Homo sapiens: one gene and its partners. The protein of the gene in region 2 purifies or fractionates together with the protein of the main gene of each other region. This does not show direct contact. Each region holds a gene or a part of one and is shown on either strand. Other genes may lie near its edges. The genes, in order: POF1B, ZC3HC1, SERPINB5 and SRBD1.

The links.
Region 1: the proteins of ZC3HC1 (region 2) and POF1B purify together in Homo sapiens (co-immunoprecipitation; 2 studies listed by BioGRID and IntAct, with this or other methods). This does not show direct contact.
Region 3: the proteins of ZC3HC1 (region 2) and SERPINB5 purify together in Homo sapiens (co-immunoprecipitation; 2 studies listed by BioGRID and IntAct, with this or other methods). This does not show direct contact.
Region 4: the proteins of ZC3HC1 (region 2) and SRBD1 purify together in Homo sapiens (affinity purification with mass spectrometry; 2 studies listed by BioGRID and IntAct, with this or other methods). This does not show direct contact.

The regions. Positions count from the first base shown.
Region 1 is NC_000023.11:85,306,666-85,313,693, reverse strand, and holds part of POF1B (protein POF1B), read left to right. Parts: intron 1-5,477; coding exon 5,478-5,570; intron 5,571-6,417; coding exon 6,418-6,531; intron 6,532-7,028. UniProt on the Homo sapiens protein: Plays a key role in the organization of epithelial monolayers by regulating the actin cytoskeleton. May be involved in ovary development.
Region 2 is NC_000007.14:130,048,350-130,055,214, forward strand, and holds the start of ZC3HC1 (zinc finger C3HC-type protein 1), read right to left. Parts: upstream 3,026-6,865; 5' UTR 3,018-3,025; coding exon 2,872-3,017; intron 2,140-2,871; coding exon of another isoform or gene 2,094-2,139; intron 796-2,093; coding exon 684-795; coding exon of another isoform or gene 625-683; intron 1-624. UniProt on the Homo sapiens protein: Required for proper positioning of a substantial amount of TPR at the nuclear basket (NB) through interaction with TPR.
Region 3 is NC_000018.10:63,486,950-63,493,977, reverse strand, and holds part of SERPINB5 (serpin B5), read right to left. Parts: coding exon 6,895-7,028; intron 4,632-6,894; coding exon 4,514-4,631; intron 3,365-4,513; exon of another isoform or gene 3,246-3,364; intron 1,026-3,245; coding exon 883-1,025; intron 1-882. UniProt on the Homo sapiens protein: Tumor suppressor. It blocks the growth, invasion, and metastatic properties of mammary tumors.
Region 4 is NC_000002.12:45,594,264-45,601,291, reverse strand, and holds part of SRBD1 (S1 RNA-binding domain-containing protein 1), read left to right. Parts: intron 1-1,456; coding exon 1,457-1,843; intron 1,844-7,028.

The DNA of each region.
Region 1 (7,028 bases), on a different chromosome or scaffold from region 2:
TTTTATGAGGCCAGCATCATCCTGATACCAAAATCTGGCAGAGACAGAACAAAAAAGGAAAATTTCAGGCCAATATCCCTGATGAACGTCGATGCAAAAATCCTCAATAAAATACAGCAAACTGAATCCAGCAGCATATCAAAAAGCTTATCCACCATGATCAAGTCAGCTTCATCGCTGGAATGCAAGGCTGATTCAACATATGCAAATCAATAAACATAATCCATTACATAAACAGAATCAATGACAAAAACCACATGACTATCTCAATAAAGGCAGAAAAGGCCTTTGATAAAATTCAACACCGCTTCATGCTAAAAACTCTCAATAAACTAGGTATTGATGGGATGTATCTCAAAATAATAAGAGCTATTTACGACAAACCAACAGCCAATATCATACTGAATGGACAAAAGCTGGAAGCATTGTCTTTGAAAACCGGCACAAGACAAGGATGCCCTCTCTCACTACTCCTATTCAACATAGTATTGGAAGTTCTGGCCAGGGCAACAAGGCAAGTGAAAGAAATAAAGGGGATTCAAATAGCAAGAGAGGAAGTCAAATTGTCTCTGTTTGCAGACGACATGATTGTATATTTAGAAAACCCCATCGTCTCAACCCAAAATCTCCTTAAGCTGATAAGCAACTTCAGCAAAGTCTCAAGATACAAAATCAATGTGCAAAAGTCACAAACATTCCTATACATCAATAATAGACAAACAGAGGGCCAAATCTTGAGTGAACTCACATTCACAATTGCTACAAAGAGAATAAAATACCTAGGAATATAACTTATAAGGGATGTGAAGGACTTCTTCAAGGAGAGCTACAAACCACTGTTCAAGGAAATAAGAGAGGACACAAACAAATGGAAAAACATTCCATTGTTATGGATAGGAAGAATCGATATCTTGAAAATGGCCATACAGCTGAAAATAATTTATAGATTCAGTGCTAACCCCATCAAGCTACCATTGACTTTCTTCACAGAATTAGAAAAAATACTTTAAATTACATATGGAACCAAAAAAAGAGCCCATATATCCAAGACAATCCTAAGCCAAAAGAACAAAGCTGGAGGCATCATGCTACCTGACTTCAAACTATACTACAAGGCTTCAGTAACAAAAACAGCATGGTACCGGTACCAAAACAGAGAGATAGACCAATGGAACAGAACAGAGGCCTCAGAAATAATGCCACACATTTACAACTATTGGATCTTTGACAAACCTTACAAAAACAAGCAATGGGGAAAAGATTCCCTGTTTAATAAATAATGCTGGGAAAACTGGCTAGCCATATGCTGAAAACTGAAACTGGACCCCTTCCTTACACTTTATACAAAAATTAACTCAAGATGGATTAAAGACTTAAAGGTAAGACCTAAAACCATAAAAACTCTAGAAGAAAACCTAGGCAATACCATTCAGGACATAGGCATGGGGAAGACTTCATGACTAAAACACCAAAAGCAATAGCAACAAAAGCAAAAATTGACAAATGGGATCTAATTAAACTAAAGAGCTTCTGCACAGCAAAAGAAACTATTATCAGAGTGAACAGGCACCCTACAGAATGGGAGAAAATGTTTGCAATCTATCCATCTGACAAAGGGCTAATACCCAGAATCTACAAAGAATTTAAACAAATTTACAAGAATCAAACAAACAACCCCATCAAAAAGTGGCCAAAGGGTATGAACAGACATTTCTCAAAATAAGACATTAATGCAGCCAACAAACATGAAAAAATGCTCATCATCACTGGTCATTAGAGAAATGCAAATCAAAACCACAATGAGATACCATCTCACGTGAGTTAGAATGGCGATCATCAAAAAGTCAGGAAAAAACAGATGCTGGAGTGGATGTGGAGAAATAGGAACGCTTTTAGATTATTGGTGGGAGTGTAAATTAGTTCAACCAGTGTGGCGCTTCCTCAAGGATCTAGAACTAGAAATACCATTTGACTCAGCAATCCCATTACTGGGTATATACCCAAAGATTATAAATCATTCTACTATAAATACACATGCACACATATGTTTATTGCAGCACTATTCACAATAGCAAAGACTTGGAACCAACCCAAATTGCCCATCAATGATAGACTAGATAATGTGGGACATACGCACCATGGAATACTATGCAGCCATTAAAAAGGATGAGTTCATGTCCTTTGCAGGGACATGGATGAAGCTGGAAACCATCATTCGCAGCAAACTGACACAGAAACAGAAAACCACACACCTCATGTTCTCACTCATAAGTGGGAGTTGAACAGTGAGAACACATGGGAACATCACACACTGGGGCCTGTCAGGGGGTGGGGGGCTAGGGGAGGGATAGCATTAGGAGAAATACCTAATGTAGATAGATGACAGGTTGATGGGTGCAGGAAACCACCATGGCACGTGTATACCTATGTAACAAACCTGCACGTTCTGCACATGTATCCCAGAACTTAAAGTATAATAAAAAAAGAAAACTCTAGAAAAGAAGGAAAACTTATTGTATTTACCATATTTTTGCTTACAATGCTATATCTTCCTTCTTAATATTCCAAATTCTTTCTTTTATGATTTTCTTCTCTTTAGACAACTTCTTTTAGCTATTCTTTAAGGGTAGGTCTGCTAGTAACAAATTATTTTCATTTTCCCTCATCTGAAAATGTGAATTTCCCTCCATTCCTAAAGGATAATTTCACTGCATATAGAATTTACAGTTGACAATTATTTTCTTTTAGTACTTAAAAAATAGTATCCTAGTTCCTTCTGGGCTTCATGATTTGTAATGAGAAATCTGTTGTCATTTGAATTGTTATTCCCAATAATTAATGTTTTTCTTGCTGCTTTGAAAATTTTTAGTTTGTCTTTAGTTTTAAGAAGTTTGACTCTGATTTGTCTGGTAATGGATTTCTTTGGGTTTATATTGTTTGGGATATGCTCAGCTTCTTGAATATGTATGTTACCAGGTTTTACTAATTTGGGAAACTTCTCAGCCATAATTTTTTTGAATATTTTTTCAGCTCCATCCTCTTTCTCCTTTCCTTCCAGGACTCTGAACATGAAAGCTAGATATGTGGTGTACACCCACAAACCCTTAAGCTCTGTTTAATTTTTTCTAATCTATTTGTTTCTGATATTCAGATTATATACTTTATTTTATTCTATCTTTAAGTTCATTAATTCTTTCCTCTGTTCTCTCCATTCTGCTTTTTAGCCCACTCCTTGAGAGCTTTGTTGTTTTGGTTTGGTTTTTGTTTCTTTGTCTTGTTACTGTCCTTTTCAGTTCTAAAATTTCCATTTAGGTATTCTTTATGTCTTCTATTTATTTGCTGAGACTTTCTATTTTGTCATTGAGACAATGTGTTTTTACAGTCTCCTTGCAACTTCTTGTTGAAGTATTTATGATGGTTGTTTTATACACTTTATCAGATAATTCTAACATTTCTATTATCTTGATGTTGTCATCAATTAAGTGTTTTTTCTTATTGGTTGAGATTTTTGTTGTTCTTGGAATTATGAGTGATTTTCAATTGACCCTGAACATGTCTGATCTTGTTTGATCTCAGAAGCTAAGCAGGATTGAGCCTGGCTAGTACTTGGATGGGAGACCTGGCCATTTTTATGTTGTGACTCTCTGGGTCTCATTCAAATATTCAAATATCAGAGAAAGTGTGTGCACTACCTATTACTGCCAGCTGGTGGTGGAAGTTGAGGTTCCCCCACTCAGCTTCTCTTGATGCGATAGGGTGAAAGCCCAAGCTCCCTTCACAGTCTCAACTGACATCACAGTGCATGGAATTTCATTTTTGGCCAGTAGGAATGAAAGCACCATTCTTCACTCTGTCTTTTCTGACACCATCCCAGTGAATGGTGTTGTGTACCTCCCTAGAGCCTGACAAGGGGGCAGTCTAAGCTCTCTTCTTGGCCTTTGGTGGTCCGTGTGGAAGTAGAGTTGCAATTTCTTCTGTGGTGTTTGGCTAAGATAGAGTGGTTACTATCTAAAAGTTTTCTGTCCTGCTAGGCTGACCCTTTCATGGTCCTTTGGTTAGAGAGAGAAGGCTTTTCTCAGGACTTTTGTTGTCCATTGATGTAACTAGATCACCAGCTTGCCCAACACTGATCTAATATATGAAGCAAAAAGAAAATCCAGGAACTCACTGCTGTGTCATTTCTCAGGTCCCAAGATTCCTAACCAATCATTTCTCTTTTCACCAATTTGGGTCTTTTTATATTTGTTTTATATATAATGTCCAGGGTTTTTAGCTGCAATTAACAGGAAGGCTAGGGAAAAGTATTTTTTTTCTTTTTTCTTTCTTTTTTTTTTTTGTGAAGCAACAAAAGTAGAGATTTATTGAAAATGAAAGCACACTCCACAGGGTGGGAGTGGGCTGAGCAATTGGCTCAAGTGCACAGTTATATAATTTTATGTGGTTTAAATGTCCTCTAGAGGTTTCCCATTGGTAACTTGGTGTACACTCTATGTAAATGAAGTAGTGGCCCGTTATCAGTCGGATTGGTTGCAGAAAGTGACCAATCAGAGGCTGAAGTTACAAAGTTAAACCTTAAACAACGTCTGATTGGTTGTGGAAAGTATTTTTACTCCATCTTCCCAGAAGCTGAAGTTGTCTGTTTTTTAAACCATTTTTCTTTAAAGAAATAAGAATAATCTAGTAAAAGAGTTTCCCCTCTCTTTAAAATTTGAGATAAGCCAGGTGCAGTGGCTCACACCTGTAATCCCAGCACTTTAGGAGGCCAAGGCTGGTGGATCACTTGAGGTCAGGAGTTCGAGACCAGCCTGGCCAACACAGTGAAATCCGTTCTCTACTCAAAATACAAAAATTCACCAGGTGTGTTGGTGCATACCTGTAGTCCCAGCTACTTGGGAGGCTGAGGTGGAAGAATTGCTTGAACCCAGGGGGCAGAGATTGCAGTGAACTGAGATCATGCCACTACACTCCAGCCTAGGCGACAGAGTGAGACTCTGGTAAAAAAACAAAAACAAAACAAAAAAAACCAAAAATATTTAGATAGCTCTATACTTTAAAGTTAAACTTAATTATAATTATATTCTTCTCACCTCAGGCAAAATTCAGGCAGTTGGCAATACACTTAGGGAGATTCATTTTATTATTTGATTATTGACTGTCTCATCTCTTCTAATCTTTTAAATAAAGAATAATGTAAAAATTAAATTTTGCTGATAGAATTCTACTTTGTGACAAAGATGATACTTTATCATGGAAAAAATAATAAATATTTGTTATAAATACTAGCTATGCTATCTTCAGGAATATTATTTGGATTACTTAAACACACTATTGACAAAATGCCTTATATCACCTTTCTAATTTGCCATATCAAAGTAAAATTATTAATAAGTTTGCTAGTAGGAAAAAAAAAACTTTCACTTATATTGCCTATTTTCAAATGTTAATAAAACTAAACCATTAATCCTTTCTTCCTGCAGATGAGGGGTATGTCTGATAAGTCACTCCGACTAGTGCTGTCCACATTTAGCAACATACGGGAGGAGCTTGGACATCTTCAAAATGATATGACAGTAAGATTTATTTTGATTTTTTCCAAAGCCTTTCTAGTTACTAGCTTCCTAATACAGAAATAAAGATGTCCAGTATATGTTTTTAAAATTTAATATAGCACAATATTATGCTTATTCAGACAAAGCTAAATTATTTTCTTCAAACAGTTAATTGGCATTGAGAGAGGAGAAAAGAGGTATCCAAAGTATAAATGAAAGAATGTTGGATGTGCACTTATCATTTAGTTTACCACTAAGGCAATTTAATGCTTAAAGCCAGAGAGTCATCTGCAAAGTTAAAATAATCTGACTCATTGGAGGTAAATTCCCCCTTTTTCATAATTATAAAGCATACTCTGAATTTCCATTCAAATATAATAACTTGAAAACATTTTTCTCCAAAAAATTAATTTTTTTCCATTTTCTATTTTAATTGGTGTTCTTGGTGCCATCAGCTAGATACATTCAGAATGCTTTCCACACATTGAATAATGCCTTGAGGACTTTGGAGTAGTTTTGTTGTTTCTGGGTTATGATGAACATATTTAGACTCTAATTTAAAAATTTACCACTCGCTGGGATTAACGAGGACTCTTTGTAGATTGGAGGAAAACATTAAAACATTTCAGAGGGTTGTGCTTCATTTCATGTATAGTTAGTCCATCAAAATGTCTCTTTCAATGAAGGTTTTAGAAGTTTCAATCATTTCCTATCCCGTATTTTCTTAACTTTTAAGAATTCTGCTTTATTAAGCAAGTACAAATGAAACAAGTGCTTATTTAAATCTTCCAAGGTAAGCAAGTCTTTGTATTATGTGACTGTTAAGTTTTTGCAATTCTGAATCATAATAAATAATTTATGCTTCTAGTCACTGGAAAATGACAAGATGAGACTTGAGAAAGATTTATCATTCAAAGACACTCAATTAAAAGAGTACGAAGAACTCTTGGCATCAGTGAGAGCAAATAATCACCAGCAGCAGGTAAACTGATGCTTTTATTGGTGTTAATCTACATTGATAGCTTTTCATATGCACAATTACTGGCACATTGGAGTTATGAGATATAATCAAGACAGAATTAAATATGATGGAAAAATTTGTTCATATGAGAATTGAGTGGCTTTGGGTATTTCTAATGGCTGAAAGCCCTCTCAGAAAAACAGATAATCTTATCTATTTTAGATATAAAGTACATATGGGACACAATTATTTGTCTTGTTGGGTGACCAGAATTGTAGAAATACTAAAAATCTAGGTTCATGCATTTATTTAATGTACTAACATGTCAATGAGAAAAGCTGTTGTAGACCTTAATACATGTTTGTGCAATAAATAAATGACTGAAAAAACTCTAGATGAATTCTCTGGATGTCTGAGCAGAGAGAATTCCTAGGAAATTGTAAGTAGTCTCTAAGGATTACCCTCTTCCTGATCTTTACTCCTATGGCTGTCCCAAATTCTTGCTCAGTTACTAGTTG
Region 2 (6,865 bases):
TTCTTTTGAGACAATTTTCCTAGTTGAGCCTTGAAATGACAGTGCCCTGACCAACCTTAATTGCAGTCTGTGAGAGACCCTGAGCCAGAGGACTCAGCTAAGCCATGCCTGGATTCCTGATCCACAGAAATTATGAAATAAAAACTGTTTGTTGTTTTAAGATCACTAAGTTTTGGGGCAATTTGCTATGCAGCAATAGGTAGCTAATACACAAAGGAAAATCTAGAAAGAGACATTATAGTAGTGTAGTCTCTAATAATCTAAAAAACATTAGATTATAATCCTGGATCTGCCATTTGCTAACAGGTTCATCTTGGGCAAGTCATATAACCTGCCCCAAACTGTTTCCTCTTCTGTAAAACAAGTATAATAATAATGCTTATTTTCATAGGTTTAAGGTCAAGATCGAATGTGATAATATATACAAAAACATACTATATACAAGTATTAGTTATTATTTCTTCTTTTCTCAGGCTCTTAGTTTTTTCTTCTGTAAAAAGAAAAGGTTAGATAACCTCAACTGTCCCTCTGAGTGATAACATATTAGGATGCTGACTTTCCTATATAATTTCTTACCAAGGTTTTATTCTTAAGTTTAAAGCATCACAGTAAGTGGTGTAATACCTTGGAGGAATTCTAGAAGCAGGCAGAAAGTGCAATTCACATGAACTAAAAAAGGATATAGAAAATGTTTCCACTCTGCTAAAGAAGGCTTCTTTGCTTGTAGATTCCAATGAAGGTTGTTCCGCTTGGGGTGATCCATTAACTGACTGGGATGTGGCAGACGTGTCCTTCCTAATATAAAGTGGCAAAACTGTTGGTAAACCTTTCACAGTACCCTCTGCTTAAATGTTATCTAGCTTCTCTACACATCGTATCATAAATCACACCAACGCTGGATTTTAAGCTTCCTAAAAATCATTTTACTCATGTCATTCCTCAGCTTATTATTTTCAATGGTTTTATAATACTTACTAAATAAAATCCAAATTTTTCAGTCTGGCATTCAAAACTCTTTACAGTTTACCCATATCTAAACTTCAATTTCTACCTCTACAGGGCTCCACTAATCCTAGCAAACTATTCTCCTCACTCACTCACTGTTCTCCACAAGTATTTGGCATAACTTTAGTAGACAGAAAATAAGACTCAAGACTTCAAGTATGCATTATACAATTTGAATCTCTTCAGAAATTCGACTTTTTTTTTTTTTGAGATGGAGTCTCGCTCTGTTGCCCAGGCTGGAGTGCAACGGTGCGATCTCGGCTCACTGCAACCTCCACCTCCCAGGTTCAAGCAATTCTCCTGCCTCGGCCTCCCCAGTAGCTGGGATTACAGGCGCGTACCACCAGGCGTGGGCCCGGCTAATTTTTTGTATCTTTAGGACAGACGGGGTTTCACCATGTTGGTCAGGCTGGTCTGTAACTCCTGACTTTGTGATTGGCCCACCTCAGCCTCCCAAAGTGCTGGGATTACAGGCGTGAGCCACAGCGCCTGGCAGAAATTCGACTCTTAACAGCAGAAAAAACAATTTTGATATTTCTACCTGGAGGGACCTTTCATACCCACTCCTTCCAAAAAAAAAAGAACCAATTAGAAAATTCGAATCAAAGATCTTCGGGAGATTTCATGAAAAAAAAATCAGGGAGAAAAAAACTCAGCAAAGCAATTCTCTCATTTTCAGTGGAAGGCATTTCAACAGTGCCTGGGGAATTGCTGAAAGACAAGCATTTATTTATTTATTTAGAGACGGAGTCTCACTCTGTCACTCAGGCTGGAGTGCAGTGACGCGATCTCGGCTCACTGCAACCTCCGCCTCCCAGGTTCAACCAATTCTCCTGCCTCAGCCTCCCGAGTAGCTGGGACTACAGGCGCGGGCCACCACGCCCGGCTAATTTTTTGTATTTTTAGTAGAGATGGGGTTTCACCGTGTTAGCCAGGATGGTCTTGATCTCCTGACCTCGTGATCTGCCCGCTTCAGCCTCCTCAAAGTGCTGGGATTATAGGCGTGAGCCACCGCGCCCGGCGACAGGCATTATTTTAATAAAAATAGGATTACATCAACGATTATAGCTCAAAAGAAATAAACTTACTCTAAGACTCTCAGAGATTCATAGAGAGCCTCAAGCGGGTGTGGTTCTAGGCCAAAAAAAATTCACAGCATCCATAAACTTGGATGGGTAAAAATGACATTTATTTCTCTCTAAATGACAAGATTTAGCATTTTCTTCAATTATGAATGAAGGTAAAAACACCATAGTAGTATTAGCAGTACCTGCTAATTTGTCACCAATGGAAATAATGTTCCCACATTATGGTGGTTGCATGTCTTCAAATACCTTTGTGCTCATCACTACTTCAAAATTATGGTTGACAACACATACTACTAGATATTATGGACTCTTTAATAAAAAGCATTGTTACTGCGTAACTTTTTCCTTTTACCATCTTGATAACTACATTCCAATCTAACTGGTTTCCTTTATAATCCTATGTAATTTACTTTAAGCATTTAAAAATATTCTGAGAGTTAATAAGCTTCTCCAGAGAGCCAAAGGGGTCCACGGCACAAAAAAAGGTTAAGAATCCCCAATTAAGAGAAGTCAAGTGAACTCATTCAGTTAACGGTCCTCTTTACTTCCAAAAATAATGTCCGATGACAAAATTTCGGCTGCGGTTGGGAATCTGGTACACCCCGAGGGGAAGATCAAAGCCGATCAAACATAGTAACCAGAGTTTCTTTCAGATTCTAAGAAGCCATCCCCACTGCCCGAGTCGCCGACCGAGGGGAACCTCCCCCAACCCGCCACCCCTTCCCCAAGCCTTCTTCAATCTTCCAACGCCGGACCCAGGGTTAACTCGTGAACTCACGCGTCCACGCCTCCCTCTTCCGGGGCAATCCCCTCATCTATCAGCTGCCGGATTTTCTGGGGGGTCCCTTCTGGGGAGCGAACTACTGCACCCCAATTCTTTTCAACCCCTACGGCAAACGCTTGTCCCTCACAGGGCGCCGCCATCTTGGTCCGCTGCCGAGTTGCTTCCCCGAGAGTTTGAAGGCTCCGGAACTTCCGTCCTGGGAGGTTAATATCCGCCTCTTGAGGCAGCCTGGCTGGGAAAGTCTAACCGCGGGGCCCACGCCTTTTCTCATCATTTTAGAACCTTAGAGCGAGCTTAAGGAGGGCTGTACTGTTTAGGACAATCTTGATTAATCGTTTCCTTTATCAACTAGCATATTTAGGTTGATAAGAGATTTTTAGAACGCTGTCAGTCCAAATTCAGCAGGGATGAGGGGCTCAACTTAATTTTCAAGTAATATTAACTAATACGGCCGGGCGCCGTGGCTCATGCCTGTAATCCCAGCGGTTTGGGAGGCCGAGGTGGGCGGATCGCCTGAGGTCAGGAGTTCGAGACCAGCCTGGCCAACATGGTGAAACCCCATCTCTACCAAAAATACAAAAATTAGCTGGACTTGCTGGCGGGCGCCTGTAATCCCAGCTACTAGGGAGGCTGAGGTAGGAGAATCGCTTGAACCCGGGAGGCGGAGGTTGCAGTGAGCCGAGATTGCGCCACTGCACTCCAGCCTGGGCGACAAGAGCAAAACTCCGACTCAAAAAAAATAAAAATAAAAATAAATTAACTCATACGACCCTCCTAAGTTGCACCTTTCTACAAGCGAGGAAATGGTGACCCTCATTGGAGAGCAAATAATTTAGAATCCTTGTTGGAAACCGTGTTATGGATGGATTTAGAAGTCTGTGGCATTTGACACTATTGATACTCCTTCCTTAGTCCAACAAATATTTATTGAAAACGTCCTATTTATTTTTTTTGAGATGGAGTTTCGCTCTTGTTGCTCAGGCTGCAGTGCAATGGCGCGATCTCGGCTCACTGCAACCTCTGCCTCCCGGGTTCAAGCGATTCTCCTACGTCAGCCTTCCGAGCAGCTGGGATTACAGGCATTCGCCAACACGCCCAGCAATTTTTTTTTTTTTTTTTTGTATTTTTAGTAGGGACGGGATTTCACCATGTTGGTCAGGCTAGCCTTGAACTCCTGACCTCAGGTGATCCGCCCGCCTCGGCCTCCCAAAGTGTTGGGATTACAGGCATGAGCCACCGCGCCCGGCCGAAAGCATCCTATTGATAGTCTCTAGGCACTAGCAATGACAGTCGTGAGCAAAGAAGCTGTAGATCTTGGTGGAGTTAGATGTCAAATTTTCCTATAGTTTTAAAATTATGATTACAAGTGCTCCAAGGATGTACCAAGGTTATAATAGGAGAATCTAATTTAGTTTGCACATTCTCCTGAGAAAAATCAGGTACTGGAGCTGAGACGGATGAGATTGAAGGGAAGAAATCTGTACAGAATCTTCCAACACCCCAGGTTGGAAGACTGATGTGACTAAACAATGGGCAAAGAGGAAAGTGGGATCACCTCCTACCCTTCCAGCACCCTACCTGTGGGCTCCTAACTCTATCAGTGTTCCCAGCAGCAGGACCTGCAACCTATTGATCCAATTACCTTTCTGCTCTTCCTAACTCCACCACCACCCTTGTTTCTTCTTTTCTTAGCCAGCTTAAATTCATTACTAATTGTTATCATCATCCCTTTGCAAAATTTGAACATGGGTTGAGACTTAGTTAATATGAAGGAAACATTGTTGATTTCACTATATGTAATAATGGCATTGTAGTTATGGTTCTTAAAAGCCCTTCTTTATTAGAAATGCATCTTGAAGTGTTTATAGGTGAATTGATATGATGTTTGGAATTTGCTTTGAAGTTATCCAGGAAAACATGTGGAGGAATAGATGAAAAAATATTGCAAAATTTTAAACTGTCGGACTTGGATGATAGAATTGTGGGATTCATTATATTATTCTTTCTGCTATTAAGTATGTTTGACAATATCATAATAAAAAGCAAAATAAATAAGCTAAAAAATACATGTTCTTGAATACCCTTTGAATTTCCTTGAACCTCTCTTGCTTAATAGTACTTACTTGACAAAACCTCAATCACAGTTGAAGTAAGTTCTCTATTATTGCTTCTGTACCCATACAACTAAATATGGCTAAAGAGAAATGACAAACTTGTCTCTTTATATTCTTGACTTCAAGTGGGACCTTAATTCTGCCCAGTAATTATACTACCTTTATCTAGTCCACTTCTCATCCCACTTTTCATAGATGACTTATTTTTATTTTTTATTTTTTTAAATTTATTTTTTATTTTTATTTTGATTTTTTTGCAGACGGAGTCTCCCTCTGCTGCCTGCTGGAGTGCAGTGGCACAATCTCGGCTCATTGCAACCTCTGCCTCCTGGGTTCAAGCGATTCTCCTTCCTCAGCCTCCTGAGTAGCTAGGATTACAGGCACCTGCCACCATGCTTGGCTAATTTGTCATATTTTTAGTAGAGACGGGGTTTTACCATGTTGGCCAGGCTGGTCTTGAATTCCTGACCTCAGGTGATCCGCCCACCTTGGCCTCCCAAAGTGCTGGGATTACAGGCGTGAGCCACCATGCCTGGCCACCTGGCTAATTTTTATATTTTTAGTAGAGACAGGGTTTCACCACATTCACCAGGCTGGTCTCGAACTCCTGACCTCAAGTGATCTGCCCACCTCGTCCTCCCAAAGTGTTAGGATTACAGGTGTGAGCCACTGCACCCACCTTCATAGATGACTATTATATACCTCTCTCCTCAAACACCTTCAATACTTCCACTTATCCATCCTCCCTTTCTGCTAATGACACACTCCTAGGAAAATACTGACTGTACAGTTAGCCATGGTAACAACCAGCAATCAGAGCCAGTTTTAAGTTCAATTGACCCATGATTACTCATCACAGTGAATGTGTTTTTGTAAACCCAATGAATGACAACTTCTTGATTCAGCCAATCACAAAGACTCACTTCAATAAGCACTCCTCTGAGTGCCAGCCACTCAACAATAGTTTCACCCAAGTTATCACTTCTACAAATGATGCTAACACACACCTTTGAAAGTTTGCCAATCTCTGAACTCCCCACTTTCTCAAAGTCTGATAGATTAGTAGTCTGGTCTGCTTGAAGACTGTGCCTCACCTGCATGGCTCTTACTGTTTATAGTAAGCAAGAAATTTGGCTTTGTGGTTTTTTTTTTTTTTTTTTTTTGAGACGGAGCCTTCCTCTGTCGCCCAGGCTGGAGTGCAGTGGCGCATCTCGGCTCACTGTAAGCTCCGCCTCCCGGGTTCACCCCATTCTGTGGCCTCAGCCTCCTGAGTAGCTGGGACTACAGGCACCCGCCACCACGCATGGCTAATTTTTTGTATTTTTTTAGTAGAGACGGGGTTTCACTGTGTTAGCCAGGATGGTCTCAATCTCCTGACCTCGTGATTTGCCTGCCTCAGCCTCCCAAAGTGTTGGGATTACAGGCATGAGCCACTGTGCCCGGCCGGCTTTGTGTTTTTATTTCGCATGATGAATGGTGTTCTCATCATCCTCTAACCGTACTTTACCTTCCCTCCTGTTACTATTGATCAGTGGTTCTCAAATGAGTGTGATATTGCCTGCCACAGGACACTTGGCAATGTCAGGAGACATTTTTGGTTGGAGTGGTGATAGAGGCCAGGAATGTTGCTAAGCATTTTACAACATCCAGAACAGCCTCGCCACAACAAAAAATTATCTCACCCAATATGTGCACAGGTTGAGAAGCCCTGCTGTAATCTATGTGCCTATCTAAGGCCAAACTTACACATTGGATCTAATTCCCCTTGCCTACTCAAGAACATTGTCCACCAATTCTCCCCTCCACTGCACATTTCCATTAGCAGCAAGATATTACTTCTCCCATCTTAAAAACATGCAAAACAGGCCAGGTGC
Region 3 (7,028 bases), on a different chromosome or scaffold from region 2:
TTAATTCTTCCCATAATGACTTCCAGTGATGTCAATGAGTAAGCCATACTTTGTTTTTTCACAGCCAACAAGTGCCTGAAAGCATCTGGTCTTGTTGTTTGTTTGTTTGTTTGTTTTTCTTGAGGTGGAGTTTCACTCTTGTTGCCCAAGCTGGAGTGCAGTGGTGCAGTCTCGGCTGACTGCAACCTCTGTCTCCCAGGGTCTGATTCTCCTGCCTCAGCCTCCCATGTAGCTGAGATTACAGGCACCCACAACCATGCCCAGCTAATTTTTGTATTTTTAGTAGAGACAGGGTTTCACCATGTTGGCCAGGCTGGTCTCCAACTCCTGACCTCAGGTGATCTGCCCTCCTCGGCTTCCCAAAGTCATGGGATTACAGGCATGAGCCACCACGCCCAGCCATCAAAGCATCTTATAAATTATAAATTAAAATCCCAGAACAATATACTTCGCTATCAACCGATAAGGAAATGAGATGTTAGAGAAGTTAATCAATCAGGAACAAGATTCCTAGATGTCAAGGTTTCATGATAATCCAAAGTCCTCTGATAACAGAGTTTGGTCTTTTCCTTTTCTGCTAAAGTTCTCAGATGTTTGTAGCTATTTTTCAGCTGGTGACTTAGCTTTCCTCGCTGGGTTACAAATTCTATAAAGTTTCACTCAGCTCAGATCCTTGAAGACATTATGGAAAAGAGGAGGGGGGGCCTCTGGATTCTGGCTCTTTTTGTACCACTTACCTTCCAGCTGTTCATCTCAGGAAAGGCACTTTGCCGGCCGTGCCCTCAGGTTCCTCATTGGAATGGATTTATGCCCCACTCTGTCCCTATCATTTTTCACATCTATAATTGGGCTCCTTTTACTGCTACATGCTGCCCCACATACCTTGTTGACTCTGAAAGGACATTCTTTTGTTTCTGATTCAGAAAATTTCTTCATCCACTTGCCAACAAAGTAGGCAGCATTAACCACAAGGATTTTGGTCTGGTCGTTCACACTGTTGTCAGCTAAAATGTTCTCAAAGTGGCCTGCAACAATTTTAGGAAAACACAAGTAGCAGAATTATTCTTCCAAACTACATCTGAAATTCACATGCATATTCACTGAGTATTTACCACTTCATGGAGTCACACCATGTAAGGCCTGATGGTTCCAACCATCAAATTTCAGAAGGACTCCTTTCTCTCCTTCTACCTTGACACAACCAGATCTACCAAAGAGGTCAGCAGAGGAGAATGAAGGAGCAGGGAAGAAAGGAAGAGAAATAAGAAGGAAAGCACAGCTACCATTCTGAATGCCTATTCTGTGTCAGGCAGTATACAAGCTATTTGATACACATTATATATATTTCTTCCTACTTTATGAATGAGGAAGCTGAGACTCAGCGATGATAAGTCACTTTCAAGGATGATATATAAACAAGGGTGGATTCAGGATTCAAAGCCAGCTCTTTCTGACTCCAAAGCCTGTGCTCTTGAATGAAAATACGTAATCACTTTCTTTATGGCAGAATTTCACATATATTATCTCAGTCTTTTCACAATGGTCCTATAAGGCAAAGATCATTATCTCCATTTTACAGTGCAGTAAACTGAGGCTCAGAGAGGCCAAGGAGCTGTTCTAGTTTCCTCAGCTGGAAAACATGTCTGAAGGTTGTCCCCTTCACCCCACAGCTCTCCATCCACTCTCTCAATTGCACTCCTTGCGGGCAGGCTGATTGCCTCAAGGTCAACTGTAATCACCATAGGGCTCAATCACAATTGCAGTTATTATAAAGCTAAATCCCAATAGCCAAAACAATTCAAGGGGAGTGATCCCTTAATAAAAAGAACTCCTCACATTTGAATAGCCCACAGGTTTTTTATAAAGGGTTTTCATTCACCTAATCTCCAATTTTCAGACCAATGTTCAGGGCCCACTTCACAGGCCTGTGACCCCTGTGTGAAGGACCCTGCACTTGGTTTAATGTTCAGCTGTCACTACCTCAAAATTCTTAATAAATGTTTAAACAAGAAGCCCAGCATTTTTACTTTTGCCCTGGACCATGCAAATTATGTAACTGGTCCTGCCAATGCTATATAATATGTTAAATATATATTAGTGTTATTGAAGAAACCTGAAGAACAAAGAAGTGTGGGAGCCGGTAAACGACAGAGCTTCAACTTCAACCCTGAGCCTCCCATTTCAAACTCAGAAGTCTTTTCATGGCTGGATGCGGTGGCTGACACCTGTAATCCCAGCACTTTGGGAGGCTGAGGCGGGTGGATCACCTGAGGTCAGGAGTTTGAGACCAGCCTGGCCAACATGGTGAAACCCCATCTCTACTAAAAATACAAAGATTAGCTGGGCGTAGTGGCACGCACCTGTAGCCCCAGCTACTTGGGAGGCTGAGACAGGAGAATCCCTTGAACCTGGGAGGCGGAGGTTACAGTAAGCCAAGATCGTGCCGCTGCACTCCAGCCTGGGCGACAGAGCAACATTCTATCTCAAAAAAAAAATGAAAGAAAGAATGGCATTCACAGCAACCTAGATGGAGCTGAAGACCATTATTCTTTTTTTTTTTTTTTTTTTTTTTTGGGAGACGCAGTTTCTCTCTTCTCACCCAGGCTGGAGTGCAATGGCGCGATCTCAGCTCATTGCAACCTCCGCCTCCCAGGTTCAAGCGATTATCCTGCCTCAGCCTCCCAAGTAGCTGGGACTACAGGTGCGTGACACCATGCCCAGCTGATTTTTGTATTTTTAGTAGAGACGGGGTTTCACCATGTTGGCCAGACTGGTCCTGAGCTCCTGACCTCAGGTGATCCAGCTGCCTTGGCCTCCCAAAGTGCTGGGATTATGGCATGAGCCACCATGCCTGGTCTGAAGACCATTATTCTAAGTGAAGTAACTTAGGAATGGAAAACCAAACATTGTATGTTCTCACTTATAAGTGGGAGCTAAGCTATGAGGATGCAAAGGCATAATAATGACATAATGGACTTTGTGGGGTGGGGGAAGAGTGGAAGGAGGTGAGAGATAGAAGACTACACATTGCACACAGTGTACACTGCTTGGGTGATGGGTACACCAAAATCTCAGAAGTAACCACTAAAGAGCTTATCCATGTAACCAAAAACCACCTGTTCCCCAAAACCTATTGAAATAAAACACAATATAATACAATTTTAAAAATTAAATCAGGTAACATGTGCCTCATTTTACAGTTCAGTAAATTGAAGCTTTGTGTCCAAATATCAGTTAGTAAGTACCAGTGTCTGGATTTGAACCTAGGTGCTGAATGACTCCAGAGACCCTGTTCTTCCCATGTTCTCATCCTGCAGTTACTGTCCTGTTAGAACTTCCTCAGTCAGTACAGAGACAGAGTAGCTGGGGGCGCCAGTCATTCTCGCAGGAAGTGGGTCTCCCTTGCCCCGGAAGTGTATCCCTCCCTAGACAGCAGCGACTGCCTAGGCTTCATTCTTTCATGACTAGATTCGGCCCGGCCTCCCAACGGGTCCCTCCAGATGCAATTATAAATATATCCACTGGGGAGGGGGACAAAGTCACTGATTTGCCCTCAAAATCATCATAACCCTAATTCTTTTCCAGCAAGGAAGACGACTCACCGGCAATTTTAAGGGAGGGACGAGGAGTCCGACGAGGGAGACGCCTGGGGGAAGCACTGAGCCGGAGAAAGAACCTAGGAGCTTCTTGGACCCCGGGGCTATCAGAGGAACGACCAGCATGGGGAGCTGCGGCACCGAGGACAAGCTGACACTACGGTTTTGTTTGGTTTGGTTTTCTTTTTTTAAGACAGAGTCTCACTCTGTCGCCCAGGCTGGAGTGCAGTGGCGCGATCTCTGCTCACTGCAAGCTCCGCCTCCCGGGTTCACGCCATTCTCCTGTCTCAGCCTCCCGAGTAGCTGGGACTACAGGCGCCCGCCACCACGCCCGGCTAATTTTTTGTATTTTTAGTAGAGACAGGGTTTCACCGTGTTAGCCAGGATGGTCTCGATCTCCTGACCTCGTGATCCGCCCGCCTTGGCCTCCCAAAGTGCTGGGATTACAGGCGTGAGCCACCGCGTCCAGCCGGTTTTTCTTTTACATATGTTGCCTATGTCCCTTTTTCCTTAACAAATTTGTAAAATTTGTCAGCTGAAAGGGGCCTCGGGGATCATGAAGTTATAATCCAGTCCCTCTATTTCCAGACTGAAAAATGGCCTCATGATTGGCCCAAAGTCATACTTTGTTAGAGGCGCAGCTAGGATTCCACTAGGGCCTGTGACAGCTCGTCAGAGAGCAAGACAAAGTAAACTAACACTGAAGCATCAACAGTTTCTACCAAGTGATGAGATGATACAAGAATTGCCCAGAAATCCAAGTTGTTTACAGGCTTGAAGGGAAAGAATTTAGCTTGTGTAGTAAAAATATCCAGAGAATCCTCCAGATGTTTTTTTTATCCTTGGAGCAAACATTTATGAGATGGAAGGCCCTGTTTACTTGGTGATTGATAGCAGAACAATTAAAGGGTACTTGCCATCTGTGAGATCCTTAATTGAGTTGTTGATCTGACCTTTCGTTTCTTCCAATTTATCTTTGAAGTCAACAGTTTCCAATTCCTTTGCATACGGTCTCTTCGTAGAGCTGATGAACTCCTGAAAAACATGCAGTTCATAAAATCAGAGTCTGTAGTCAAGCTATTGCATTGTTATTCTCTTCTAACAAAAGGATTATTAAATATCAACTGCTATATGTACACTTTCAAAATTGGTAACACTATATGAATTGAAACCTCATGTAGAAGTCAGTGAATTTCTTTGTATTGAATGTTTCATTTTTTTCAATTATAAGACAATTTCAATTATTAAATGCATCTATCAATTTAATATCAGCTTTGGGGAAAACACTATGTTAAATATGCCCAATTCTCTTATGGGTTGTAATTTCAGAAACATGAAAATTTTGTATGTCTACAGATACATATATATTAGAATATAGGAAATGTATAGAAAACAGAATTATGAGCAGAAAACTCTTGTCTTTGCTGAACTAAATATCCTGTAGACCCTTGCTACTCAAACTGTGGTCCAAGGTGGTGTACAGCATCACCTGAGACCTTGTTAGAAATAAAGAATCTCAGACCCCACCCCAGACATACTGAATCAGAATGCATTTTAACAAAATTTCCAGGTGTGCCATCTGCAAATTAAGGTTGGAAACACAATGCAGGAGAGAACATAACAGGAGTTCTTATTCTAATGCTTATTTAAAATGTGCAACCCTAAACCCCATTCCCACCTTGACAATCAGAACTACCTGGGTTTAATCAGAACTACCTGGGTTCAATCAGAACTACCTGGGTGTTAAAAGGGCCTGAAGAACTTGCCCTTTTAACACCCAGATAGTTCTTATGCAAGAGATCCTCCACAGAGCACACTTGTTTGGACCTTTAACTAGTAAATTTGCAGATGCTGTGCACCTAGCAGGAGCAATGGAAAGCAGTCTTTTAAAAAATCTTTTGTAATGAGCCGAGATCATGCCGCTGCACCCCAGCCTGGGCAACAGAGAAAGACTCCATCTCCAAGGAAAAAAACAAAACAAAACTTTACAACTCCTAGTCTGGTTAAGATCATTCCAGATGTTGCATGGAAGTTCAGTGAAACTAAATATAACTTGATTCAGTGTCATGTCAGTTCACTTCCAAGCACAGGGCTTCTTGAATTTCTTCAGAGCAGCTTCAGCCTTAGCCAATTAACTTAGCTTCAGTTAATTGCAAATCAACCTTGGGACTCACTGTCACCATTGACTGACAGAACCAATCTCACCTGAAAACATTAGAAAGCCTCAGCCAGATGAAGGAGGGCCTCCATTGTCCTCACTGCCAGCAATAAAAATGTGTTAATTGTCTCTTTAATGATCATTTAGGGAGCTTCTAGAAATGTTGTATGCTCAGGCTTCAACTCACATCTCAGTTTTTTTTTTTAAATTCTTCAGATGATTGTTGGAAGAAAAATGGTTGTGTGTATGTATCTTTAAGCAACAAAAAATATACTCACAATATCTAGTAACCCATGTCCTCAAAAGATCTTAACCACAAAAATACCTACTGCAGAAAGTTGCAAAATCATGGTAAAATATTTAAAAGCTGGTAGTCTAGCTTTTCGATTTGGAAACCTTGAAATTCTGACCATCCAAACAGGAACTAAATCAACTCTGTGTTACTGAAGTACAGAGGGAAACTTCATGTAGTCTAGAATATTGTCTGTGTGTTTCAAATACAGATTTTTAAATATTACAACAATGGGTACCGTAGTGGTGTTTGTATGATTCCTTAGAGCAATGGCTAAACTTATATAACCAGAGCTGCCTGTGGAGATCCCCATCTGACCAGCCCAGCCAACAAAACTAATTTGTGACTGATGAAAATTGTGAATTCATAGTTATTATTTTTCTTACTGATTTTGAGAAACATCAGAAGAATGTGTGCATAAAAAATGAGGTGGAGAGCTTAAAACATTGTCCCAGGCCATATGCCCTGCTCTTTAAGGAGAAAGAAGTTTAAATCATTAGCTGTCTTACACTCTGTAAGACAGCTCATTGTCTATGGAGCTACATTTATTAGAGAGTTAATTACTCTGTTCTCCATTCTCTCAGAGGAAGGTAAAAGAAAGGGTAAGATTTATTTGAGAGAGAAAAGGAAAGCCCATAAGCTTCTCTGTATTTTGAGTTAGAAGATGTGACTGCAATTGATTCCCACTATACTCAACCTCTCCACTAGGATTTATTTATTTAAAGCCTCAAATCACAAGTGAACATCCTAGAAAGGAATTTCACTGAAAAAAAGTTGTAGGTCTAACAGCATGAAAATGCCACTCCTTGTAAAAAGTTAAGTCTTGCTACTTGCTTTAAACAACTTACTGTAGAAAGATTCAGAGATTTGTCTACGTAGAGCCGCTTGATTAGTTTCAGTGAGTAAAAGGAACTAAGTTTGTTTACATCCGATGTTACTGTTTGAAATCCAAAGGGTACATCTTTGACATTTTCAAAATGAA
Region 4 (7,028 bases), on a different chromosome or scaffold from region 2:
AATAGGGAATTAAGTAGTAATCAGAAATTTACTTGATGAGCATGGACTCAGAATAGGATGATGAGATAAATCCATTCGTTTGAGTTTATTGAATGTCCACTGTGGTCTAGGCATTATGCTTGTCACAATCACAATTGAATGTTTTAATAGCTTGAAGCTAAGACAGTGGCTGACAACACCCTTTATGATTGACACTTTCTTTAGATATGTCAATTCATTTGATTAGGTTATCAACTCTTTTAGGCCTGGGAGTTATTTTATCTTTATGTCTCTGCTCTGATCCATTCTATTTTGGGCAAAAAATTTAATACTCAGAGGGCTCTCTAATGTTCATTATTTTCAAGTTCAGATGGTGGTGGTGGCAGGTTGGCATTCAGGTGGAGGTGCTCTTTATTGTAGTTCTTAATATTTTTAATAGTGATTCTGGAAAAAATACTTGATAAAAGAGAAGATAGAATTTTGACTAAAATTTAGTTTGGGAATTGTTCATGTTTGTGCCATCTGCATCATTTAGGTAACGGAGAACAGACCAGCTTAGGGGTAGGGTCTTTATCTTATTTACACTATACCCAGTGCCGAGATGGGTGCCAAGTCTCATTTCTTCACACTTGAGCTGTCACTTGGATTGGGGGGCAGTGGCAGTGCAGAGTGTAGTCCCTAGACACCTGTGTGGGCTGCTGTGCGGACTCTTGTTAAAGAAAAATGCCTGACATTAGCCTGCTATCATTCTGTGTTCTATCCTCTACTCTTCAGCAGAAATTGGTGGCATGTGTAGCCTGTTGAGTTGTATGAGTGAATGAGTGTTACTTTTCTGTCTGCTAAGTGGTTGACTTTGATAGCAAGTTTTAATCTTGGTTTTCTGGCATGTGTAGACCTATCCTTTACTCATTTTTAAAAATTAAACTGCTTATTTCTAAATAGTTGACATGCAATGGGAAGAAATAATAGAAGAATTCCATGTACTCTTTATCCATTTTTTCCCGAATGGTAGCATCTTGCAAATCTATAGTAAGATGTCACAACCGAGATACATTGATAAAATCCACTGATCTTATTTAGATTTCTCCAGTTTTACTTGTATTCATTCATGTGTATGTATATGTATGTACTTGGTTCTGTGCAATTTTATCGCACATGTAGGTTTGTGTATCTACCATGACAGAAAAGTTCCATCACCACAAAGATGCCTAGTGTTGCCCTTTTATAGCCACACCCACCTCCCCCCATCATCTCTGACCCTTGCCAACCTCTAATCTCTTCAGGAATGTTATATAAATGTATTCATATAGTATGTAACTTTGAGATTGGCTTTTTTTCCCACTCAACATAATTTACTTGAGATTCTTCCAAGTTATTGTGTGTATCAATAATTTGTTCACTTTTATTTGTGAGTAATAGTCCCAGGAAATTGCTTTTTATCTTCTAATTCTCATATGTTCTCTTTGTGGTTTGATAGAATAGCTCTGTGGCTATTGCTGATACTGCTTTAGAAGACAGAAAAAATAAATTGGATACTGTACAGACTCTGAAAACAGCCAAGACAAAACAGAAATGTGCAGCGCAGCCACATACAGTTCGAAGGACTAAAAAGCTGAAAGTTGAAGAAGAAACCAGCAAAGCCAGCAACTTAGAGGGTGAGAGTAATAGTTCAGAGACACCATCCACAAGCACTGTGTGGGGAGGTACATGCAAGAAGGAAGAGAATGACGATGACTTTACATTTGGTCAGTCCGCTTTAAAGAAAATCAAGACTGAGACATATCCTCAGGGGCAGCCTGTCAAGTTTCCAGCAAATGCCAATAGTACTAAAGAGGAGGTGGAAATGAATTGGGACATGGTACAGGTATGTGCAGCCTTTTTCTGTCACTTTAGTTGTTTTGAGTGCTTTCTTTTTGACTAGCATAGGGGTTGTACTGTCTAAGGGAAGGGCTGGGGGTTTTCAATTCTCTCTTCAGTTTTGCCAGTGATTTCTGGAGGCTTTCCTACTTGTAACTTTCTTGGGTACACTGTTTTGTGTTGTAGCTAATCATCAGTTCTTCAGCTAAGATGTGTGGCCTCTCTTGGCCTTTGCTATGGTGTTTTAGTGAACATAAACTATATAGACAGATTGTACCAACTGGTTGGGCCCCCACAGGTTCATTGTTAAGTTTTTGCTTTGAACTTGGACTGTATTTTCCTATAAAAGCAGTGTAGGTGATTAGGTCACTGGCTGTTCATACATCTATTTAACCCTTAGTATAATGTTGTAATGTACTACAACAAGGCCTAGCGATTTTTGAAAGGAAATTCTGTAAGAATTCCAACTTGAGATGCCAGAATTATATGTCTTACTACAGGGGAAATCAGATTTCTCCCAGTTTTTTTGGCTGGCTTTGGGGACAGTATTGGAGACCCGAAGAGTAGCTAGTGAGCTTTTGTCTGTCCCAGCACATTCTGGGACCATTTTAGACTTAATTATGGTAGTGCCTCTCAGGGTAGGTGGGGGTGACTTCCCTCCCTGTTATCTGTCCCATGTGATTCTATTGTGTACTCTTTCCCTTGCTATGATTGTGGCTGTAGAGCTGAGGGCCTCTGCTGGATCCTGATTCCACTTCTCAATCTGGGACTGCCTGTGTGTCACAAATGTCTTTGTACCCATGCTGCCTTTTCTATTACCTCTTAGTAAAACGTAATTTTTTTTTTTTTTTGAGACGGTGTCTTGCTCTGTCGCCCAGGCTAGAATGCAGTGGTGCTCACTGTCAGCTCCACCTCCCGGGTTCATGCCATTCTCCTGCCTCAGCCTCCCGAGTAGCTGGGACTACAGGCACCTGCCACCACGCCCGGCTAATTTTTCGTATTTTTAGTAGAGACAGGGTTTCACCGTGTTAGCCAGGATGGTCTCGATCTGCCTGCCTCGTGATCTGCCCGCCTCGGCCTCCCAAAGTGCTGGGATTACAGGCATGAGCCACCACGCCTGGCCTGTCACTGGTAATTTTTAATCATGATTTTTCTTCTCTGTGGTGCACTAAGGAATAGAATGTTGCTTTACAGCTTTTCCTCTTACCTTGTTCCTGAATGAATAGTCCAAGGTATCTTGGAAAAACAGAGTATAATTAGGCTCCTTTCTATGCCTTCTTTTTCTTTGTTCATTTATACCTAGAAGGCAGTGTTTTAAAGTGTGGTCCATGGACTACCTGCATCAGATTCACCCTGAAGCCTTTCTTAAAGTTCTTGGTTCCAGACCAGGCCTACAGAGGCAGGTGGACATGTACCACTTCCCTTCTCTTTTCCTTTTCTAACGCTTTTTAAGGTTATTTCCATTGTTGACATAGATCCACCTCTGGTAGTTGGCAGTGTGCAGGAGGAAGTTAAGAAGTTTTAGACTGTGAAGTCTCTGGTCTTTGAGACTTGGTAATAAGTTATTCGTAGTAAAGAGCTACTTATTCTATGACTCTGCTTCCCACCCTCTGTTACAGGGAAAGAGATGTAGAAAATGGCCCTGCCTTAACCTTTTGTCTCTAGGTTACAAGTATATAAGCTCTTTATAATGAGCTTAAGTAGAAAAGAGTTTTTCACCAAGGACATAGGGACCTTTCAAAGAACAAAAGGGACAGAATGTGGTCAAGTCTCCCAAAGGACTTGAACCAGAAATTGGAAACTGTGAGGACTCAGAGAAGGTGCTGTTAGTTTTCTCTCTATCTGGTGTCTTATAATCACCAATTTCTGCTGCTTCTCTGTTTGAGTTATTATTTTCTCAGCAGATAAGATTTTCTTGCTTCTTTACAGAGGATAGAAAATGACAGCTCCCTAGTTTATTTGCCATTAGTTTTATTAGTTACGTAGACTAACCAGTTGCTTCTGTATTGCAGTTCCACATTTTTTTTTTTTTTTGTGAGACAGAGTCTCACTCTGTCGCCCAGGCTGAAGTACAGTGGCGCGATCTTGGCTCACTGCAACCTCTGCCTCCCAGGTTCAAGCGATTCTCCTGCCTCAGCCTCCTGAGTAGCTGGAACCACAGGCATGTGCCACCACGCCTGGCTAATTTTTTGTATTTTTAGTAGAGACACGGTTTCACCATGTTAGCCAGAATGGTCTCCGTCTTCTGACCTGGTGATCCGCCCACCTCTTTCTCCCAAAGTGCAGGGATTACAGGTGTAAGCCACCGCACTCAGCCTCCAGTTCCAAATTTTAAGAAGAAAGTCTGATTGGCTGAATTTGGGTCAGGTATCCATCTCTGGTCCAGTGCCTGGGGTGCTGAGGCCTCACTGTATTTTAGAAATATGGCTGCCAGGGCTGTGTGTGTGTGTGTGTGTGTGTGTGTGTGAGGGTTGTGGGTGTGGGTGTGTGTGTTAGGGTTGTGGGTGTGTGTGTGTGTGTGTGTGTTAGGGTTGTGGGGGGGTGTTCTCTGAGAAAAGGAGGGCATTTCTGGGCCAGAAGATGTCTACTTCAGGGTTCAGCTTTAGAATGTAAATTTATAAATCTAGGTGATGATTAGCCACTGTTGACAAATACTTAGGTTTCTTTTACCATAATACCTTAAGGTGTTGGTTTACAGATCTTTAATTGACAAGGGATCATAATACTTACCATTTATTTATAGATGACTTGTTATGAGCTCGGCTCTGTACTAGGCACTTTAGATTTGTTTACTACATTATCATGATGGATTAGTAGATGCAATGGGTTAACCATCAAAAAATCCTTTATGGATAGGAGTAAAATAGACAGAAAACAGTTTTGTTTGTTCAGAAAAACCATCTTAAAGTTAAAACTTACTGAGAAATTACTGAGAATTGACTCAAAGTATTTGTAGAATTTAGTTTCTAGTTTGCATCATTTCTCTAATAGGTATAACTGAAGGTGATTTCAGAGCTTTGAGAGAAGAAAATTTGTTCTGCAATCCGTTAACCTAGACTTTTAATGTTTGGTTAGGAATGAATATCTGGGTTCACTAATGCGTTCTGTAATGTCACTAAAATAGCAGCTAAACAAAGCCTTTTGGAAAATACATTCCAAGAGAAAGGCAAGATTACTTGCTGAATAGAATGAGGAGGGACAAGTGTATGATGAGCGATAGGTGCCCAGCTGCCAGAAGGTGAGTGACAAAGGAAAAGTAAAGAAAGAAAAGTTTTATTTGTAAGCTAGTAGCAGTAATGTCCTTTGTTGTGTTGTGGGAATAGTGACTTGGAAGCAAGTTGTCTCATTTAAAGGCACAAGAACTATTTTATGGCCTTTTGCCCTCTTAGAAAATATTTTGAAAATTATAGGCATGCTAGATTTTCCTTTTAATTCCAAGCAATTTTTTTTTCCTCTTCCTTTTTTGAAGTGAATGTTGACAGCTGAATGCCTATTCTCTGAGAATCTGGGCACTCCTTGCCTGTGAATTGGGAAGTGGTTTTTGGGACGCTGCCACCTTTGCTGAGCAATCTGATGGCAATTATTAAGCTCAGCATTTTCCTGGTGGGTTTAGGGAAATTGCCTGGGAAACTATTACATGTGAATTTTACATGTTTGGGTTCTTTTTATTTAACCAGTTGCAATTATCCTTCCTTAATTTTAACTTGAATTTTACAGACAATTATTGTGGTATATGTGGATTTCCTTTCCTATACTTTTAAAATTTCTCCGTAAACAGGAGAAACTTTGTCAGAGAGAAAGTAATTTTGTCTTAAAACTGTATTCCTGCTTGTAAACATGGTTGAGAACAGGGGTAGATGTTGGAAAAAGAGGGAACTGACAAGAATGAGAGTCAAGTAATACCAAGCCAGAAAATCAGAAAAGTCCTGAACATTTGGATAAGGATCAGACTCAACAAAATACCTGTAACATGCATATTATCTGCCACAAAATGTATGTCCAAATTCTTTGGGGGAAATCCTGAATAGTTATCTAGTTAGCAAGGAATGGTTGTGAAACTTAATTGTATGGAAATTATTAAGTATTACTAGTTGAACATGTGGAAATGTCATTTATATATCCTTTATTTTGTGTACTATTCCCCATGGCCTTGGCCACAATGATAACTTGGTCCTCTGTTTTTTTCCGTTCAAGGTGTATTTCTCAACTCTGAAAACTACAGATTTTTTTCAGGAACATCACTGTCTTGTTTGGAGAGGCAGAACTATATAGTCAACACTTGATTTAGTTTTAGGCTTGTCAAAAGGACAAAATTACAAGTTTAGTTTAAAGATCTCTGTTGGGTTTATGATTCTAGAATCAAGCAACACTTCATTTCATAAAATAGGATAAGTGTTCTAATGAATTAAGCAGGGGGGTTGGTTTTATAGATAGGACTAATGAAAGCAGAAACAACAGAAAGTGGATTGCTTTCCTTGTAAAGTGGAGAGAGGGAGACAGAAAAATAGAAAAATAACAGATAAAATGAAGTTACTTCAGTCTTTTTGTATAAGGATTAAAGTAGAGGGAACTTTATTATCATGCCTATTGAAGATTGAAACTGGCCTGTTTGATAAATTGGCTGTTATCATTCTTTAGATTTCTTGGAAAGTCAGATAACAACTTTGTTTTAGTTTGGTGACTAAAATTTTAGCCAGGGTGAGTTCATTTTGATTTTTAGTCTATGGAACATAGGGTCTATCGGGGCCTACTGCAGGAGCTTCATCCAAAACAATGGCTTCCTATAATGTTTTAACAGACATTATACATGAATGTATTTTGTTTCTATTTCCTGATCCGGGGTTGGGGATCACCAGGTCTTTTGACAGAAGCAACCTACTCCTTTTCAGCCCTTTCTCCCAAACTGCAAATGTGTGATTGCGACCAGAAACTAGTTTTTGTTAAAGTTATTTTGCAGATATGTTTTGGATACCATGAACTATAAGAATTTGAAGAAGTGACCAGCTACAGACAATTTTTGGGAAAATTAAACTGCTCCAAAGGTGGTTGTTGTCCAGTTTCTTTCGGGAGTGGTGAGTGTAGGGGAGTTGAGCAGCCATGTGTAATATCTTAGTAAAGTTTGCTAAACAGGGAGAAAAGGCAAACAAAACCTTTTTTATTAGCTGTTTTCCCTTTGTTGCAAGAGATTGTGT